3 linked regions of the Homo sapiens genome follow. The protein of the gene in region 1 interacts with the protein of each later gene in a pairwise test. Each region holds a gene or a part of one and is shown in the gene's direction. Other genes may lie near its edges.

Region 1 (7,114 bases):
CAGTGTCTGCATATTTTGAAGAGTACAGGTGGTGTTGTACTACTTTAGCTTATTGTTCTTCAAAAATGTAGTCATTTGGAAGAGTAATGTGTTTCTTCTGTCTTTTCTAAGTGTTAAAAAAAAGTCTACATAAGAGTCTAGAAGTTTGTTGCCAAATCCTTATTTATTTTACAGATTGAAAGGCTTAACTACTGTGTTCCTTATAGCACATGGGGATTCAAGATAATTGAAATACTTTAAATATAAATTTAAGTTTGACATAAAGTGTTACATCATAAGCATTATTGTGAATCTTCCTTTCATTCTAAGAGAATATTTTGAAGATGTATTTTCATGGTAACTATAGTGTTCTACTGTTTTATAAAACGTAGGGTAGGCATCAAAAGCAAGAGAAATTGAAACATTAAATAGAAATGCAGTGTTAGCAATCTGTTTTTATAAATCTTGTCTCTTAGATCTGCTCAGTCTTTCAGACAACACTAAGCCTAATTGAAACCAGCTTTTCTTCAGAGGTCCTAGGCCAATTTTCATTCAGAAGACACAAGCATCATCCATATCCAGATTGGTATACAACAGGATTCAGCAGATTTGTTCTGTAAAGATCCAGCTAATAAATATTTTAGGCTTTACAGGCCACATGTCGCTGCAGCTTATTCTTTTTTTGTTTTATTTATAGCTCTTTATTCTTAACTCACGGCCCATACAAAACAGGCCATGCATGGGCAGTCATTTGCCCATCCCTGGTATAGATTCAACTACCTTCCCTTCTTTTTTTTTTTTTTTTTCTAGATTATTTTATGCAGACCCTTTCATTCCTTTACCATGTTATACCTTTAGAAAGATTTAGTGTTTGTGAATTCTCTCTTTCATACTTTAAAAAAGAAAACAGGGATAAATTGCATCCTCTTGTAATGGTTTGTATGTTGGACTAAAGGCAGGAGTGTACACTGAAACTTCTTCCATGAGATGTTGATTTCTCCTAAAAAAAAAAAAAAAAAGAAAAAGAAATCTATTAGTACCCAACTTTTCTCATGTTTATCCGAAAAAACTTGAGCCTCATTCTCTGAGAATTAGACCTTTTAGTGTATTTTCATCGAAAGCATTTGCCACAGAAAAGTGTTAAGAATCCATTTATTTCATGAAATAAAGTAGTGAGAGATTGACAGTAAACAATGAGTAAATACATATGAAAAAGAAGTACATATTAAAGATTACATAGAGAACTTTTGCACAATCACATATGAAACTGGGTGCTAGATACTTGTAGAGAAAGCTGTTTATGCTGATTTCAGAAGTTGTCCTGCTTAGAAATGAGACTTTTTTCCTAGGAACAATATTAGTTGTCTAATTTTTAGCCACACAGTCTTCTTGGTTCTTTTATTGGGTGGGGGGAACCAAATCAAAAGAAAATGTTTCACTAAATATGGGGCATCATGTGTTATGTGAGTATCACCAAAAAAAACCCTTCTCTCTTTCAGGGGACACTTATCTACAAGTCTTTTTACATTTAAGACAAGTGGTAAGCCTTTTATGGACTTTATAATTTTTTATTTATATAATATTTTTTGAACACTGTTAGGCACTGTGTCAGTTGCTGATTTATTGTACTTTCTCACGTAGTTGTCTTAATAACACTATGAGGTAAGATAGTTATCTAATAATATAATGAATAGAGCAAATTGAAAGTTTTATATTTATAGAGAAATGGTCATGTAAGCAAGGAAGGTTCCTTAAGAAAGATGACTTTTGAACTTGTCTGAAGAAGTAATCAATTCGTTCAACAGAAAATACTTACTGAGTGCCTTCTCTTTATGTGCCAGGCATTGCTCTGGTTCGAGTGATAGAGTAAAGTGAACAAACTCCTGCCTTCCTGGAGCTTACATTCTAGTAGTGAGAGATTGATGATAAGCAATGAATAAATTTCTGTTTATAATGTACTGTTTACAATATGATAAAAGATGTAGGAAAATAAGGAGGACTGGATTGAAGTTGGGAAGGGCCTTCCTCCCAGGGAAGACCTCAGGGAGAATGCAACATAGGCCAAAAACCTGAAGGAGGTAAAGGAGTGAGTTACTCAGTTATTTGGGAAGAGTGTCCCAGGGAGAAGATAATGTATCTCCATTAAACTAACAGTCATGCTTATAAATGAGCATGTTTGTAGGTTTCCTAATGATACACAAAGACATATGCCCAAGAAACACTTGCCTAGTTTTGAAATTTCTCTGTTACAGTGTATTATTAGTGTAGTGTATGTTAATTAAAGATGGAATAGAAAGTTTTCAGTGAGCAGGTCTACATGCATTTTGAAATTATACCTGGAAACCAAATTTAGTCTTTTCTTTGTTTCAGGATGTTATGGAACACTGGGGATGGAGTCTGGTGTGATCGCGGATCCTCAAATAACAGCATCATCTGTGCTGGAGTGGACTGACCACACAGGGCAAGAGAACAGTTGGAAACCCAAAAAAGCCAGGCTGAAAAAACCTGGACCGCCTTGGGCTGCTTTTGCCACTGATGAATACCAGTGGTTACAAATAGATTTGAATAAGGAAAAGAAAATAACAGGTTAAGAGACAAAAATTTTCTAAAGCAATTTGTAACACTTATTTTATTTGAAAAACTAGTAACATCTAAGATTTTCAGAGAAAATTAAGGCATTAAAATTGTAATTATATGGTTTTATATTTTCTTCACTGATGTTAATATTACTAGAGACACATTTTATGAAACATGGCAGAGAAAAGGAGTTATTTGTGTTGGTCAGGGTTCTCTAAAAGGACACAACTGATAGGACAGATGTATATATAAAGGGGAGTTTATTAAGGTGTATCGACTCACATGATCACAAAGTGAAGTCCCACAGTAGGCCATCTGCAAGCTGAGGAGCAAGGAAGCCATTCCGAGTCCCAAAACCTCAAAAGTAGGGAAGCCAACAGTGCAGCTTTTAGTCTATGGTCAAAGGTCCAGAAGTCCCAAAGCTAAGAACTTGGAGTCTGATGTTCAAGGGCAGGAAGCATCCAGCATGGGAGAAAGATGTAGGCTGGGAGACTTAAGCCAGTTTAGTCTTTTCACATTTTCTTCTGCCTGTTTTTATTCTGGCCGTGCTGATGCAGATTAAATGGTGCCGACCCAGATTGAGGGTGGGTCTGCGTGTCCTAGTCCACTGACTCAAATGTTAATCTCCTCTAGCAACACCCTCACAGACACACCTGGGAACAATACTTTTCATCCTTCAATCAAGTTGACACTCAGTATTAACCATCACAGTATTTAATTCGTAATAGCTTTTTGTTTCCATTGTAATGAGACTCTTTTTTTAAGGTAGTGTTTCAGTAAAGTGGTCTTGAGACATCTAAAATAACGGTCTCCTACAGTCATTAAGAGAAATTTATGTTAAAGGAGTCCATTTTAAATGATGAGATCATTAATTTTCCACATGTGGAGAGTATAAATTTAATTTAGGGGAACTTAGCAAATGGTCGGAATAATTGGTTGGGATTGGTTTAATTTTGTTAAAATATTTATTTTGTTTTGGTACTGTAAATAATACCAATAATCATCTTTAATCTGTTCATTCCCAGGAAGTCATCTTACCCAGTAGTCAAAATCTATTTTACGACGTTATAAACACAAGACACCAAAACAGAATAGTTCTTTACTTAATTAATGCCCACCCATAATCCTTCCTCTCTCTCCAAGGGAATAAGGCCAAGGATTTAGTAATTGTTATGACAAAAACGTGCACTTGGATATGGAAATGAGCCATAATTAGAAATGTTCGAGCTGTGCATTTCAAGTGTTTATACTTTGATGCTGAACAAACTTAGGGAATCAGACCATGTGCATTAATGAAAGCAACTCTTCATTCCCCAGGCATTATAACCACTGGATCCACCATGGTGGAGCACAATTACTATGTGTCTGCCTACAGAATCCTGTACAGTGATGATGGGCAGAAATGGACTGTGTACAGAGAGCCTGGTGTGGAGCAAGATAAGGTAAAATGATTACCAAGGTATTTTTAAAAAACATTTTTTAAATGGGTGGTTGCCAAGTCACAGAGCTCTCCTGTATAAAAGAGATGTAGAAGTTTAGAATGTCTTATACTACCCTCTTGTGGTTATTTTAGGTAGTGTTATTGGCCTTACTCTACTGACTTTAGAAAATTCTCAGTAGTTCTAGGTTCCTTTTGGTGATTGTAACGGTGAGTACTTTTCTGATTTTTGTCATTGCATTTTTAATTGAATTGTTTAGACACTTTATTAAGAAAGTCTAAAAGGGACCTTGTAATTTCTTATTTTTATGAAGCTTTTTTCAATTCACCAGATGATGGAGAGCCTTTGTTCCCAGATTTCTACTCTGTAGGCAAGAGGTAAAAAAAGAAAAAAGCTGAAAACCAACGTGCATTAAATTATAGGATATTAGAGATGAAAATTCATCTGAAGATCATCTCACCAACTTTCATCTTGGGAAACTTCTGTTTTTTCTTACATGAAGAATTGCTCTAGCATCTAATTATGGAATCTTTGTTTTAGTTAGCAACAATTTATGAAGATGCTGGAATGAGCCAGAGGAAATGATAAGGGGTGGGGAGCAGGCAGAGATGGGTCTTATTCAGATGTGTATCCCTTTGATCTTTAAATGGAGAAGTCCTTGTGCCTAAGGAAGATAGATGTCTCCCATCAGTACCAAAACTATGGGGCTGGGCATGATGGCTCACTCCTGTAATCACAGCACTTTGGGATTGCTTGAGCTCAGGAGTTTGAAACCAGCCTGGGCAACATGGCAACACGCCATCTCCACTAAAAATACAGAAAATTAGCCAGGCATGGTGGCGCATGCCTGTAGTCCCAGTTTCTTGGGAGGCTGAGGTGGGAGAATCACCTGAACCCAGGAGGTTGAGGCTGCAGTGAGCTGTGATCACTCCACTGCAATCCAGCCTGGGCGACAGAGGGAGACTCTGTCTCAAAGTGGAAAAAAAAGAACTGAAACAATGATGACATTTTTTCAAACTTTCCTATGAGTTTGATTTTGATTATATATTTTTGTTTTTTATCATGTATGATTTGCTAAAAAGTCTTCAATTACTACTTTTCTCATCTCTTTGTTCAAAAACCTCCAGGGGCTCATTATCTTTCATATGCATCTTAACTCCTCTGCTTTTATTCAAGGCCTCTTTCTTCTCTTCTACTTGGCGTCACATGAACTTCATCTTTGGTGAGCCTCTCCCTGTTAAAGAAAATAACAATACTGTCTCCATACATATCTTCTACCTCATGCCCCTAAACTTGACTACTCTTTACTCCTGCCACATCCATATTCATTTGTATCACATTTATTTTGCTTGTGGAATATAGCTAAATTTTTGGAATGTTAAGAATTGTTCAGGCTTATACTATAAAAACTTCTAAACATTAAATGATATTTCTGAAAAAGATTCTATGTTGCATTCATTTTTGAAAGGTAATTTCTCTAAGTGTAGAAATCTGGGTTGATCAGTGGTTTTTTGGTTTTTTTTTTTTTTTGGTTTTTCCTTTCAATAATTGAAATACGTTGTCTGCTGTTTGCTGGCTTGCATTGTTTTTGACAAGAATTCTGCTATTATTTCTGTTCCTCAATATGTGATATGTCTTTTTTTCTGTGGCTCCTTTTAAGGTTTTCTTTTTATCATTTGTTTTAAGCAGTTTGATTGATGTGGCTTTTTTATATTTTTCTTCTTTTTTTTTTGCGTGGGGTTCTTTGAGGTTTTTGGATCTGTAGGTTATGATTTGCATCAAATTTAGAAAATTGTAGTTCTTTTTTTTTCAAATATTTCCCTTCCCCAATTCTAATTTTATGAATATTATGACCCTTGAAGGTATCTTACCATTCACCAATGCTCCGTTCTTTATTTTTTTCAGTCTTTTTCTCTTTGTATTTTAGTTTGAAAGTTTTCTGTTTTGTCTTCAAGTTCACTAATCTATTCTTCTGAAATGTCTAATCTGTTAATCCCATCCAATGTATTTTTATCTCTGATACTGTATTTTTTATCTCTAGATGTTCAGTTTGGGAGTTTTAAGATGTCTCCAGTGTGTCTTTACATGCTCATGCTTTTCTCTATCTCTGGAACATGGAGCATATATAATAGCTCTTTTAATATCCTCATCTGCTAATGTTATCCTATGTCATATATGGGTCTTTTTATGTTGATTGATATTATGGATCATATTTTACCTGCCCGAATTTTTTTTATTGGATGCCAGACATTGTGTTACATTGTTTGGTGCTGGGGTTTTTTGTTATTAATATTCCCTTAAGTATTTTTGAGCTTTATTCTGGAATGTAGTTAAGCTACTGGAAACAATGTGATATTTTCAAGGCTTGCTTTTAAACTTCATTAGGCAGGACCTGGACAGCCTTCAGTTTTCTTATTTTTCTCCCCCACTGAGACAATACTGTTCTAAGTACTCACTGCAGCATCCCATGTATTATGAGGTTTCTCTGTTCTACCTCTTGGCAGTGTAAGGAATTCCCAGATCTACGGAGCTGTGAGACTTGTCCTGCTGACTCATTCCAGTGTTTCTTTTACTGGCCATAGGTCATTTCTTTACATGCAGCTGAAGATTTAAGGGATAACTCCTTATATATTCTAGAAGTGTCTCTCTCTCTCTCTCTCACTCACTCTATCTTTATAGCTCTCTTCTCTCCTAATCTCTGCCTACAAATTCTAGCTACCTTATTGGCCTCCCACTCTCAGCTCTGTCTCTGCAACTCAGTGAGACCGGCAGGCTCTGTTAGGGATCTCTCTCCCTGCACTGTGGCCTGGAAACTCTTCTATAGACAGTACTGGGGCAATAAATAGCAGGGTTCACCTTATTTGTTTCCCTTCTTTCCGTCATTATTGCCCAAGGCAGCCTGTTATCCAGTTTCTCAGGTACGTATAGGGCTGAACAATAAGTCTAATCCGTTACTCTTATGGTCAGAAATGCAAATCTTCACATTGAATTGTATGAATTAACAGTCTTTTCCCGCTCATGTAAGTCCATCTGCTCCCTCATCACCTCCAACCCAAGGGTAATTGGTGTATTCATTTTACCCCTTTTCTGAGCCTGCACATGTGCATGAGTACGCAGAG
Region 2 (7,114 bases), about 72 Mb from region 1:
TCCCTTATGTTTTCTGTGCCCACTGTCCTGTTGTCCTGTCTGTGAAGTGTGCAATGCACATAATCACTCACACACACACACACACACACACACACACACCCCTTCCCAGACAGGTTAAAGGGAGTCTAAACAAAACAAGATACTGTTTGTGTAACATTTTGAGCTCTTTGGGACAAAGGTGCAACATCAACCATCCATCATTATCCTAACCCAGCACACAGAAATGCTTTGTGAAGTTTAGTTTAGATGATTCAGGATTCCCAGAACCCCTACAGATTTTTCAGAAACTACCTCATGCTTCATTCTCTAAGCCAACTAAAAAAAGGAGCAGAAACAAAACACCCTGCTTCCACACAGGAGGCGTGGAGCAGCTCTGTTTACTCCTCCGACACAAAGCCCTTGTTTATGTGGGACAGATGGTAATACGTTTCTCTTCTCTTCTCTCTCTCTCCCTCCCTCCCTCCCTTCATCTGTTCCTCTCTGTTTCTTTGTCCCCCTCCATTTTTCTTTTCTCCAATCCTTCTCAGTTTCACACCACTTTTCCTGAATTGACTCAAGGGCCAGCAAGAAAGATAGACACACAGAATGCCAAGCCCTAGGGGAACGGCTTTGCATCTACTATTTACTCTACCAGGCTGCATGCACACGGTCGTTTCTTGTTTCACAGTACTCACATTTGAAATGCATTTTTGAAGACAGAGTGATACACCTTTGAAACTCCAGGGGGTTCAGGGCAAACATGAAAAGACCCATAAATATTTATGTGGCAAGTTTCCATGGATTGTCTTCACAAAGTAAAAAGTAACCACAGTCAATATGTGAGAGCGCGCAGACACAGACACACACACATACACACACACACACACACACACACACACACATGTTCCTTCCAGGCCTGGCCACTCCCAAAGAACACATGTAAACCTCTTATCACATGTTTACTGCAGTGGGCATAGTCTGTAAACCAGCCTGGGGGAGGGGAGAGGAGGTGTGAAGGACTAGACACGCAAGAGACTTCTCTCCCTCCATGTATAAAGCTGGTTCCTCTCCTTCTCAGACCCAGGCAAGTCACTTATTCTTTCCCAGCCTCTGTTTCTTCTTCTGTAAAATGAAGGTTTTAGAATGCATAGGTGATCTATAGCATCTTTTCCAGCTCTAAATATCTATGACTCAAGGTTTTTAGAGAATTCCCATAATATGAATCTATCTGACACCCAAAATACCTTGTGGGGGCAGGGACAGGTCTGTTGGAATCGACAAACCAGTGATGAGTGATGTCAAACCAGTGACTGAACAATGACCTTTGTGGTGGCAGAGGAGAGACGTTTGGGGCAAAGGGAAAAGAAAAAGATGGTATTAAGTTCAGTAGGGAAATGAGTCGTCTATAAGCAAAGTCAGAGAAGGGCATCAGAAAGGAAAGAATTGGCATAATAGGTACCAAGCAGGAGTAGGAGGCAATATTTGGCATCTGCCTGGGTGTCTAGAAGAAAAGATGGCAAAAAAGCAAAGCAGTGCAAAAGGAGGTGTGCACAGGTCCTGCCTGGTCGCCTGAAATCCATTCTCAGATGCCAAACATGCTTCAGACAGAGGCATTCTCCAAGAACCAGCACACTGGCACTCTTAGAAGAGGCCTTAATGTGATGCCCTGTTCTACACAAGGATAATAACCATCCCCCATAGCCACCCCCCACCTACAGAAAAGAAAGAGTAAATACCCTGCTTTTAAAAGATGAATCATTATTTGAGCACTAATAGCTACATCTGCAAATAATTAACTCTAGGATTTATTACCAATTAGGACTATAAATCTGTGCTTACTTTGGCTCCTGGAAAGTTGATTTCACTGGGGAGTGTGGGAGGGAGGGGGGACAAAGTCATTTGAGACAAGGAGGGAGAAATCCAAGCTTAAAAAGGCACACTTCAAATTCAAAAGAGAGCAAGATTTCTCAAGCACCACAGCAGCAAAGCAGGCTTGACTTGCGGTTCTAAGCAAACCAGCCCAGCAGAAGCCTGCAGGGTTAGCAAAGTCAAAGAGACTGGTGCTACTCAGAGGAGGATGTTAGGGCCCGGGAAGGAGGTTGCATACTGTATGGACCCCAGTGCCTAGGCCATAGTGTGGGCTGAGTGGGCAGTGGAACACTGTGCCCATCAGGCACAGTTCATTATCTCAGGGACACTCTGACCATTGGAATCACCTGTGGAGTTTTAAAAACATACCTATGCTTGGGTTATACTGCAGACTAATTAAATCAGAATCTCCAGGATGGGGCTAGGGTATCAGAGTGGTTCAAAAAACACCCCCAGGTGACTTTCAAGTGCAGCCAGGGTTGAGAACCACCACTTACCTCATTTCATCCTCAAGCACTCCCATGTTAAGAGGGTTGCTATAGCTCTCATCGTTTTACAGAGAATGCTGAGGAACAGAGAGGCTAAGTAATGGGACCAGGGTTACACAGCTAACAGTGATGAAGGCAGGATTTGAACACAGAGCCCACAGTCTTACTTATCATGTTCTATGGACTCCAAGGTTATGGTTCCCAGACTTCCAGGCCCTGAACCTTCACAGTCTATTCAAGATAGAAAATGGGGACTCAGGCCAGGACTGATGGCTCATGCCTGTAATCCCAACACATTGGGAAGTGGAAGCAGGCGGATCACTTGAGTCCAAGAATTTGAGACCAGCCTGGGCAACATGGTGAAACTCCATCTCTCAAAAATACAAAAATTAGCTGGGCGTGGTGGCACATGCCTGTGGTCCCAACTACTCGAGAGGCCAAGGCAGGAGAATCGCTTGAGCCCATGAGGCAGAGACTGCAGTGAGCCGAGATCATGCCACTGCACTCCAGCCTGGACAACAGAGTGAGACCCTGTCTCAAAAAAAAAAAGAAAAGAAAAAGAAAATGGGTACTCATAAATGACTTTTATGCATGTTTTTTAAATCATAGAAATGAAACATTAGCATATATGAATGCTACATATTAACGAGGGGGGCAAGTTTCTTTCCTTTGATTGGGATGACATCAACACAGAGGTTGCACTGGACATTTCACGCTTATCAGGAGTTCTCACCCATTCATTCAACAAACATTAAGTGCCAATTTTCTGCAGAGTCTACGACCCTGTGCAGATAATCACACAACAGATGTTCTAAGGGACATAATAGTAGCATGCACTAGACACTCTGAGAGCACACAGAAGAAAGCAGGCAGCTTGGAGTGGCCATGATATATCACGCCTTTAGTGAGTGTAAAATGTCAAGGTAAATCACAGGATAATATATGCATGCTGCTAAGAGGTGAAACATGAGATAGAGTCCCTAACTGGAGGCAGAGAATAATCAAATCTTATAAGAACGTTGGGAATAAACTGTTGCTGATCCATAAATAGTTCACCCAGGGTAGAAAATGCAAATTCCTGGCTGGCAGCTATATGAGTGTAATGAGCCCGACGTCAGCATGGGAGGTGGGGACTGAGGTAACCTAGAGACCCTGTATCCTGTCTAAAGAGGCAGCCAGTTCTCAACACCAGCCAAAAATCACCATGTAGAAATGTGGATGCAGTGTTGTCAGACCTTTTGACTTTTCTAGGAAAATCTGTAAATATGGGTTACTTAACGCAAGATCTCCCAATTTTTAAAAGGCATCTAATTCAAGTATTTTCAAAACACCACATAAAGCAAAGAAAATACATCCCCGCCCCCACCGCCCCCCACCCCGCCAGCTTTGATTTCATCACTGAAGGTGATCTCTCTGCTAGTCCCAGGATCCCAAAGCAATTGCTTATTCACCTGTACCTTTCCCCTCGCCCCACAGGTCTGCTCATTTATTTTGGATATGGCATCTGGAACAGCACCCTGGAAATCAGCGCTCGAGAAGAGGCCCTGCACCAAAGCACGTACCAACGCTACGACGTGGATGACCCCTTCTCAGTGGAGGAGGGTTTCTCCTACGCCACAGAGGGCGAGAGCCAGGAGGACTGGGGCGGGCCCACTGAAGACAAAGGCTTCTATTACCAACAGATGTCAGATGCGAAGGCAAACGGCCGGACAAGTAGCAAAGCGAAGAGCAAAAGCAAACACAAACAGAACTCAGAGGCCCTGATTGCAAATGATGAGTTAGATTACTCTCCAGAGTAGGAGAAACACACAAGTGGGTAGAAATGGTGATGACTGATTTTCAGTAACTTAACCTGTGGGCTAGAAGGTGAAAACTTTTTTGGCTCTCATTTCACAAATCCAGCCTTCCCCAAATTCAATCCCTAGTCATAGCCTGTCATTTGCTACTTTTGCTCTTCAGGATAGTTCTGTTGAAGGGCTTAACCTGGGTCCCCTAACTGGTCGCCTTGTTAAATAAAATAAATAAATAAACAAGAGGCTATATGAAATTCCATCTTAGGTGCAACCACCAGAGCTGATGGTACCAAATGTTTCCTAGGCCTTTGCTTTGCTGGTTGAAGCCCAAGCAGGGGCTCTGGGCAGAAGGCAGAATTTCAGTCACCTGAGACATGGGGACAAAGCTCTGTTCTTGGCATGTCAGGCTGAGTGCTGCTCCCCGAGGTCAGGGTGGGTAGATGGGCATTGGCACTTCCTGAGCAAGCATCATTTTATCCTGCAATCTCACCCAAAATTAATTCATGGAAAAGACACATGCTTCTTTTTATTCACCAACATTCTCACAGCTTCCAAACTATAATTTTAGGATCCAGCAAAGTTCAGGGACTCTGGACCATTTTCCCAATGGTTTCAGATTCACCATAAAGCAGTCAGGCAGACCCAGTGATATGGTAAGAAGCACCATCAAAGCTCTATGTAAATGCCCAGAAGAAAATTAAATAACCATATCTTGCGGTAAAAGCCAGAAGGGCATTGGCAGAAATTAACTCTCTGTCATGGCCTCTCTTATATCAGACTGCAGCTCCTGGTGATATGATGAAAGCGGGCAAAGGTGGAGCATGATTTCATGGCACTGATATGCCTTGAAAAAGTAGGTTGTTTGTTTTATAATCAGATAAAAATTTTTACAAGGAGAAGTGAGCCAGCCACTGAGATCACATTGCAAATTCTCTTTCATATTTCTAAAATTATAAATTCTAAAGTTTTTGAGATAGGCAACCACTTGATTGGTGTGTGCTACTCTGAAAACAAAATAGGCTGAAGTATAGCGACTTAGGTAGTTGCATTCCATGAGATCACATTTCACTTCTGAACCTTATTCCTTGGGGCTAGCTCACTTTCAGAGGTGTATTTTTTTTTCCTGTTATTTCCCAGAGTAGTTTCACTGAAGCCCAGAGAAATATCTACCTGGTAAGATGTAAATTTGGGCCATAAAAGGGGCTATTAAAAGAATTTTCTCAGAAATAGAATAGATGAGAGAATTTGCAAAGGAAAAAAACACACATGGGCTACAATATAAATTCTACTCTTGGGTTACAAGAATTCCTGTGGCTGCACTGAGATACGTACAAATGTATGTGAAGGCACAATTTGAATCAAGCTATCATAGAATTAACCAAGCTATTAAAATTAATCAAGCTATTAATAAAATCTCTGTGAGGATTTCCTGAAAGAGGGACAAAAGAAGAAATTCCTTGTCCTTTCTCTCCTGGATGTATCAGTATGCCAAACGTTTTCCAGAACATATTCGCTAGCACTCAAGTCTGTTCTTTCTGAAAGGCTGAGGCTCATGCCATCTTGGCATGCTTTAGGATTATGGCAAGGAGGTAAAAGTCCATTTTTTCATTCAACTAACACTGGTTGAGAATAGACCCAATGCTAAGTGACAGGAATGAATAGAAGCATGGCACTTGCCCTTGGGGGCTACAGTCCATGGATGAGCAGCACTGGAGCCTGGTAAATGCAGATAAAACAACAAACTTGACAAGTCTCCAGGCTGATGCACTGGGTTTTAACATACATATAAAGATGAATTGAAACTAGTTTTTAAAAAATATGCTTTAAATAAATTACATATCGTAATCATAGCCAATGTATACCATTAAACTAAAATAACTGCAATTTTCTAGATATTTTTTATTCTTCTGTAGTCATTGTTTAGAACTCTGGTTTCCTGAGGTCATTTTGTCATTTTAATATCATGCTTGACAATGCTATGTTTTCTCTTCCCTAGAGTTAACCATAAAGATACAGTGCCTACTCTGTGAAATACAGCATTAGGAATTAATTATAAACTAATTATCAGTCATCTTTTGAAAACAAAGTTTTGAATTGGCTATAGGACTCAACAAATCTGCCTGGTGTAAATAGAATCTGTTAAGCTTGATACATATCTAGATAGATGAGGAGGGGTTGTATTCATTAAGCATGAGAATAGAGAAATAGGAGTGCAAAATGGCAAAATCTTAACGTGGGTGAAAGAGCTTCCTTTTACTAGTGAGGTTTAAGTATTAAAGTAACAATAGCCTGGTGGCAGATGAATGCAATTTCTATAGGATGGGAATGGAAAATGTATGCTTTGGTTAACACCATTGCTGTTGACTTCATGCAGATTCTATTAAGCACTCTCATTTCAGGAGCCATTTTTCCCACATAGTATATTAGTATATTTTAAGCTTAGCTCCCTTTATTTTTCTAAAGTTGATAAATCACCTCCCTAGCAACCTTAGTTTTAAAAAAAAAATCACTAAGATAGAAAAAGTATTTTCAGGTACATAGACATGTTTGTCCTCAGGTTTACCTGCTTCTGTGAACAGTCCCAGATTTTACAATGCAGTTTTCAAATACCATCAATCACTACAATGACAATATTACTATTTTCTTAACAGGTTTCTAAACGATGTATGTGTGGGATCACATTAAAAGTAAGATCACCTTATAATTATCTTAGAAACTTTGCCCCTTGAAGGGAGTCCAAGGAAGACCTACATTTTATTGAATTCTGAATAGCAAAAGCTCTCCGAGTGAGATTTCATTGTGTGGATTTGTGGTTTGGAGCCAATTACTTGATTTTCTTCAGATTTTATTCTACTTATTTATTGGTACTCTGCTTCATTTCAAAAGGATTTGAGGCAGCTACTAAAATATATATAATACAAAACAAAAATTAAGTGAGGAACTCAGAGCAAACAAAAATAGAAACAGAAAGGATAAGACAAAACT
Region 3 (7,114 bases), on another chromosome or scaffold:
AGATTTGGCAACAAACGTGAACCGAAATATCAGTAGTCTGTCTTTCATTTTTGTGGGTCGTGCCTTGGGATATTTGAGTGGCTCTGTGATTGGTGGATTTCTTGTCGATGTCATGAATTATTTTTTACTTTTGGGTAAGTAAATGCTAATTTTAGCTTCTTTATGACTGTCAAGTGAATTTACAAGTTGTCTTTGAAAATATGAAAATACTAGCATGCAGAATGGTTGGCCACTGAAATGGGTAGTGTTTAGGTGTCCTCAATGGCAGTTGAGTTTCCCTGGTACCTGCTTTCATCTTGACAGTTAGAGGGTATCTGTGCTGGGTCCCTCTGGAAATTTAGATTAGCTCTAGAGTGTCTTAGCAATCCTTAGCCTTTCCAACCACTATAATTTAGCTACCACTCCTGGATCACACACTGGTTGTCCAAAAAACTCTGCTTAGAGGGTTTAGGGCAGATTTCCTGGGGTCACCACAGATCAGAATGAGCTCTTTGAACCTGCCCAGGCTACACCCTGGATTGGGAATGAAGAGGGGAAGCGAGGTTGGGTGGACTGATGTAGGCTATGTTTTTGTTCCTGCTGCCCCATGTTGTCGTTGGACAACCCCAGAGTGCTCTGTCTCACCCTGGAAATAGATGGCAAAGCTGCTTTTTTTTTTTGAGACAGGGTCTCCTCTCCCTCTATTGCCCAGGCTGGAGTGCAGTGATGCGATCTCTGCTCACTGCAACCTCCCCCTCCTGGGCTCAAGCGATCCTCCCATCTCAGCCTTCCAATTAACTGGGACCACAGGTGTGAGCCACCATGCCTGATTAATTTTTGTGTTTTTAGTAGAGCCGGGGTTTCACCATGTTGCCCAGGTTGGTCTGGAACTCCTGAGCTCAAAGGATCAGCCTCCCAGAGTATTGGGATTACAGGTGTGAGCCACCACGCCTGGGCTGGCAAAGCTTTTAGCATATACTTTTTTTGAATAAATTGAAATATTTAGAGAAAATTTAGATTAATATGATAAAATTGTTTTGGAAGCAAGAATAATTTGTTATTGTTAAGGAATTAATAAATAATCCCTCTTATTTCCAAAGTGGGTTGAAATAACATATTTCTTGTATTTTCCTCCCTATTTCCCAAACTAATTTATTTAGTAAATTTTATTACAAACTACTCTAGTAATTGCATTTTATTTTTGTCTATTTAATTTTTTGCCTCATGTCTAAAAATTCCTGTTAGGTTCTTAAATGTGAATCATTTAAATTAGTTTTGGCTTGTCTCTTTTGGTATAAAACTTTGCCTTATGGTATAATTTACAGTTTGATTACTAGCAGTGCTTTAAATGTATTTGTGTTATAATTATTTATATTTCATAATCCATAAAGATTATAAAAGATTCAAATGAAATAATCACTTTTAGAAGCAAAAACTCTCATCTACTCATTATCTAATTTAAATTTGACCTGATTTTGCATGTTTGGACATTTATGATATTGACTTGATCCATGACTGCATGGATATTATTTTTTATAGCTGAGTTTCTACCTTCCCAGGAATCTCAATGTCGGCTACCACCGTTGGTCTTTATCTTGTTCCTTTTTGCAAGACAGCAATATTACTCACTGTCATGATGTCTATCTTCGGTGTTTCAATTGGCATTCTGGATACAGGTTAGTGAGCTCTTCAACGTCATCTCTGGGAGTAGGGACTTGCTAGAAGAAGTACAGCAGATGATACTAAACTGTCACTTGCAATGCCCCCTAAAATGACACAGACCTACTGAGTTGGTTGTGAGTCACTCAGAATGAATCACCCTTCTAGCAGCTATTCTTGCCAATTAGGGGGCCTGTTTCTGAGCAGCCAACTCTGAAATGAACTTAAAGAATTTTGTTCTATGAGAGATAATTGATTTACATTGTCCAAACAGGGAAGGGCCCCTGTGTGGGTAATTACAGTGCAGGTGAATAGGCCTTCATCTTGGGGTAGAACTTTATTGCTCTAGTATGGGAGGAATTGGTGGTTTAATAGGTTAAACCAAGTTTGGAACTGTTATTTGGCTGAGAAAGCATAGAAGCAGCAATCCAACTTGACATTTACCCTGACTTCCAAGCCAAGAGAGATCCATAGTGTGGACTAGGCTCTTTCTTTTTCTTTCTGTCCTCAAAGTTCCTGGCCTCCTGCAGTAGATTCTTTCCCGTATCATCATCATGTCTTTTAAAACTTACTAAATAGGCCGGGTGCGGTGGCTCACACCTGTAATCCAGCACTTTGGGAGGCCGAGATGGGTGGATCACGAGGTCAGGAGATCGAGACCATCCTGGCTAACACAATGAAACCTCATCTCTACTAAAAATACAAAAAATTAGCCGGGTGTGGTGGTGGGCGCCTGTAGTCCCAATTACTCGGGAGGCTGAGGCAGGAGAATGGCATGAACCCAGGAGGCGGAGCTTGCAGTGAGCAGAGATCACACCACTGCACTTCAGCCTGGGTGACAGAGTGAGACTCCATCTCAAAAAAAAAAAAAAAACCTACTAAATAACGGCGGGGTGGCTTACGCCTATAATCCTAGCACTTTGGGAGGCTGTGTCGGGCAGATCACCTGAGGTCAGGAGTTCAAGACCAGCCTGACCAATATGGAGAAACCGCGTCTCTACTAAAAATATAAAATGAGCCAGGCATGGTGGCGCGTGCCTGTAATCCCAGCTACTCAGGAGGCTGAGGCTGGAGAATTGCTTGAACCCAGGAGGTGGAGGTTGCAGAGAGCCACGATTGTGCCATTGCACTCCAGCCAGGGTCTCAAAAACAAACAAACAGAAAACCTACTAAATAACATAGATGACATCTGTTTACTCCTAAAACCAGCTTTCTACCCCTCCCTTCCCTGCTTTGCTGTTACGTGATCTGTTGAGGAAATATTTTATTTTACTTTAGGGTTAATTTTGTTATGAAATTATAGGGTAGAATTATATATTTATCTGAAAATATCTGTTGAAAAAAAAGAAGATAGCTCAAGATGTGCTGCTTCTTGCCTTTCTCCTCCTAGACGTTTAGACAGTATAAATTCAGATGCTAAACGGTGTCCTTGTTTCCTCTAATGGGCATACCAGAATCCTGGCTATTCAGGTTCCTGGACGTGTGTTTTGCATCTGTTACATACATAAGTAAGTAATTTTCCTCAAGTGGCTACCAACAGCAAGTACAGAAAGCTTTGGTAATTTGGCTACTATCTGATGATAAAATTTTGCCTTTTAAATATATATTTAAAATATTAATATATAAATATTTCTTCTGCAGTCTGATGTTAGAACTGTATTATAAAAAGCGTCTTGCTAATGTGCTTGGTTCTAGGAGGTAGTAGTCTACTAGACTGTAGAATTCGATTTGTGAGTATGTGATGTTATAATGCTTAGAGTTGTCTGGTGGTAGTGGGTTAGAATTCCTTTCTCAGAATTGATTTAGTTGCAATGTTTGATAATTAGAATATTATAATGCTTGTGCTATGTAAAATAGACTCACCCCCTTTCTGATAAGTGAACTTTTTTTTTTAATAAGTAAGTAACTGTTTAACTTAAATAATTTTTCCCATCTTTCATCGACAGGTGGTAACGTCCTTATCTTGGCTATTTGGGGGGACAAAGGAGCCCCACATATGCAGGCCTTACACTTCTCTTTTGCCTTGGGTGCCTTTTTGGCTCCACTGCTAGCTAAACTGGCTTTGGGTCCGACAGCGTCTGCTGAAAACCACACAGAGTCTGACTTCCATCCTGCACTCAACCAATCATCTGATGCTGACTCAGAAGCTCTGTTTGGAGTACCTAATGATAAGAATTTACTGTGGGCTTATGCTGTTATCGGTACTTACATGTTCTTAGTTTCTGTCATTTTTTTTTGTCTGTTTTTAAAGAATAGCTCAAAGCAAGAAAAAGCAAGAGCATCTGCTGAGACATTTCGAAGAGCAAAATATCACAACGCCCTTCTTTGTCTCCTTTTTCTGTTCTTCTTTTTTTATGTTGGAGCTGAGGTAACATATGGCTCTTATGTTTTCTCATTTGCAACCACCCATGCTGGCATGAAAGAAAGTGAAGCTGCTGGGTTGAACTCCATCTTCTGGGGGACATTTGCAGCCTGCAGGGGCCTGGCAATCTTTTTTGCTACCTGTTTACAGCCTGGAACCATGATTGTGTTGAGCAACATTGGCAGCCTGACTTCATCTTTATTTCTGGTGCTTTTTGACAAGAACCCAATTTGTCTCTGGATAGCAACTTCAGTGTATGGGGCTTCAATGGCAACCACATTTCCGAGTGGTGTTTCTTGGATTGAGCAGTACACGACCATCCATGGGAAATCTGCAGCATTTTTTGTAATTGGTGCTTCCCTGGGAGAAATGGCTATTCCTGCAGTCATTGGAATTCTTCAAGGAAAATACCCTGATTTGCCTGTAGTTCTGTATACCTCTTTGGGAGCATCAATAGCTACTGGTATTTTATTTCCTGTGCTATATAAATTAGCCACTTCACCTCTTGATCGCCAGCGAAAAGAAGACAGAAAGAGTGAGGACCAGAAAGCTCTGCTCTCTAGCTCCGGGCTAAATGAATATGAGGAAGAGAATGAAGAGGAGGATGCAGAAAAATGGAATGAAATGGATTTTGAAATGATTGAAACGAATGATACAATGAGGCATTCTATAATAGAGACATCTAGAAGTAGTCTGACGGAGCCCACAGCTGAAGTCTATAATCAATACCCATCAAATGCACTGGTGTTTGAGTCTTCTCCTTTTAATACTGGCAGTGCCCATGTGAAGCACTTGCCAGAAACCAGGACAAAAGGGACTAACGTTTAGAGAAGATGGATTACTCACTGACATCTTTGAATAACTGCCACTTCTAAGGACGCCATTCAGAGCAGAGCATTAGCAGAATTTCACCATGCTTTGGGGATTAAAATTTTTAGGTCCATATTATAGCAAATGCTAAAAATTTTTGAAATGTTCTGTAATTCCCAGAGTCTTCCATAAATAACCAAATGGTCTCATACACGTACAATAGGATCTTGTTATAACGCTATCATTTGACATGTGACTGATTAGGAAATATTTTATGGTCTCCACCCCTCAGAGCACCCAAAGAAGGCATTGTTTTTGAGAAGGGGGGTATTCTCAGAATGAGACCATGTAGGAGTTGAATTGATTGGTTGAACAAATTATCAGGTATCAATATTTTTCCAGGAAAGTTGAGGAGAATAGTTTCATAAAAGAGAAATGGGCCGGGTGCAGTGGCTAAAGCCTGTAATCCCAGCACTTTGGGAGGCCGAGACGGGCAGATCACGAGGTCAGGAGATCGAGACCATCCTGGCTAACACAGTGAAACCCTGTCTCTACTAAAAATACAAAAAATTAGCCAGGCGTGGTGGCAGGCACCTGTAGTCCCAGCTACTTGGGAGGCTGAGGCAGGAGAATGGCGTGAACCCGGGAGGTGGAGCTTGCAGTGAGCCGAGATCATGCCACACCGTACTCCAGCCTGGGCGACATCTAGACTCCGTCTCAAAAAAGAAATGGAGAGGTATTTTTATTAATTGCTTTACCTTATCTGTAGGGTTGGATCAAAGAATGTAATGACTCATTTGATTTCTAATTTCAATGAAGAGAACACAGAACAGGGCCCAAGGGGTCGGGCTTCAAGCCTTGACTTCTTCTAGCCCTGCACTCTGTCACTTAACGTAGGCCTTGTTTATCTCGCCTCCTGATCTGTGATTCTAGAAATGAAAATGAGATGATTTCCAAATTGGGAATCTGTAAGTTTTAAAGTTTGTGCAAAATGTCTGCTAGAAATTAGTACAAGTGACAGCATGTTCTTCATTTCAAATGAGAAGTGAAACCAAAATGATAAATAGCTTTAAGAATGTGCTAATGATAAATGATTACATGTCAATTTAATGTACTTAATGTTTAATACCTTATTTGAATAATTACCTGAAGAATATATTTTTTAGTACTGCATTTCATTGATTCTAAGTTGCACTTTTTACCCCCATACTGTTAACATATCTGAAATCAGAATGTGTCTTACAATCAGTGATCGTTTAACATTGTGACAAAGTTTAATGGACAGTTTTTTCCCATATGTATATATAAAATAATGTGTTTTACAATCAGTGGCTTAGATTCAGTGAAATACAGTAATTCATTCAATTATGATAGTATCTTTACAGACATTTTAAAAATAAGTTATTTTTATATGCTAATATTCTATGTTCAAGTGGAATTTGGAGACACTATGTTCTAATTTTAAGAACTGTTTCAGTGTTATTAGATTAGTAGTAGGGCTGTAGATGGGGTCTTTCGAGGTCCTTTGCCTACCTCAGTAACAGAGGCTGGGTCTGAGCCTTGCTCGAGATTAGCTCTTCACCAGGTCTGTGTGGTAATCATATCGTAGTTACCGTAGGTCACGCTGCAAGTGTAATTTACAGTGAGGCATAGTCTTTTCCAGTGATTGGAATACTTGTGTCACCGATCCAGGGTTTCTCTTTCCTGAGTCTGAAATACCTGGGAAACCAGTTAGAAGGTGACTGGGTAGCCTAGGAGTCAAGGATCAGAAAGGGTACTTCATATATATGTGGCAGAATTGGTGCAGGTGATCCTTTGAAAAATGACAAGAATTGATGAAATTTTGTTTACTTCCTCCAATTTTTTGCTGAATAACATCTCCTTTCTACCTGATTGGAGTAGGCTTGCTTTCTCTTACTTAATTTCTATAAATTTGCCATTGTTTTGTCTCAAGTAAAATACAGTGTCTTTCTTGACCACTGCCCGCCCATTCACCTTATATGCCTGCCACAGTCTTGGTTCATGTAATAACCTAACAGCTTTGGAGATGGCGGTGGAGAAGTTAATGGTAAAAACCTTCTTGCTCTTTTTATTTTTATTTATTTATTAGGGGTGGGGGATGGTGTCTCACTCTGTCACTCAGGCTGGAGTGCAATGACGTGATCTCAGCTCACTGCAACCTCTGCCTCCCTGGTTCAAGCGATTCTTCTGCCTCGGCCTCCTGAGTAGCTGGGATTACAGGCATGCGCCACCATGCCCAGCTAATTTTTGTGTTTTTAGTAGAGAGGGGGTTTCATCATGTTA

What was found.
Region 2: the proteins of DCBLD2 (region 1) and SLC7A14 interact in binary tests that used the Homo sapiens proteins (3 or more experiments, as listed by UniProt).
Region 3: the proteins of DCBLD2 (region 1) and SLC60A2 interact in binary tests that used the Homo sapiens proteins (3 or more experiments, as listed by UniProt).

Annotation. Positions count from the first base shown.
Region 1 is NC_000003.12:98,814,653-98,821,766, reverse strand, and holds part of DCBLD2 (discoidin, CUB and LCCL domain-containing protein 2 precursor), read left to right. Parts: intron 1-1,478; coding exon 1,479-1,519; intron 1,520-2,349; coding exon 2,350-2,565; intron 2,566-3,873; coding exon 3,874-3,998; intron 3,999-7,114.
Region 2 is NC_000003.12:170,464,076-170,471,189, reverse strand, and holds part of SLC7A14 (solute carrier family 7 member 14), read left to right. Parts: intron 1-3,787; exon of another isoform or gene 3,788-3,812; coding exon 3,813-4,135; 3' UTR 4,136-7,114. UniProt on the Homo sapiens protein: Imports 4-aminobutanoate (GABA) into lysosomes. May act as a GABA sensor that regulates mTORC2-dependent INS signaling and gluconeogenesis. The transport mechanism and substrate selectivity remain to be elucidated.
Region 3 is NC_000006.12:111,262,292-111,269,405, forward strand, and holds part of SLC60A2 (sodium-dependent glucose transporter 1), read left to right. Parts: coding exon 1-134; intron 135-1,538; coding exon 1,539-1,655; intron 1,656-3,584; coding exon 3,585-4,828; 3' UTR 4,829-7,114. UniProt on the Homo sapiens protein: May function as a sodium-dependent glucose transporter. Potential channels for urea in the inner medulla of kidney.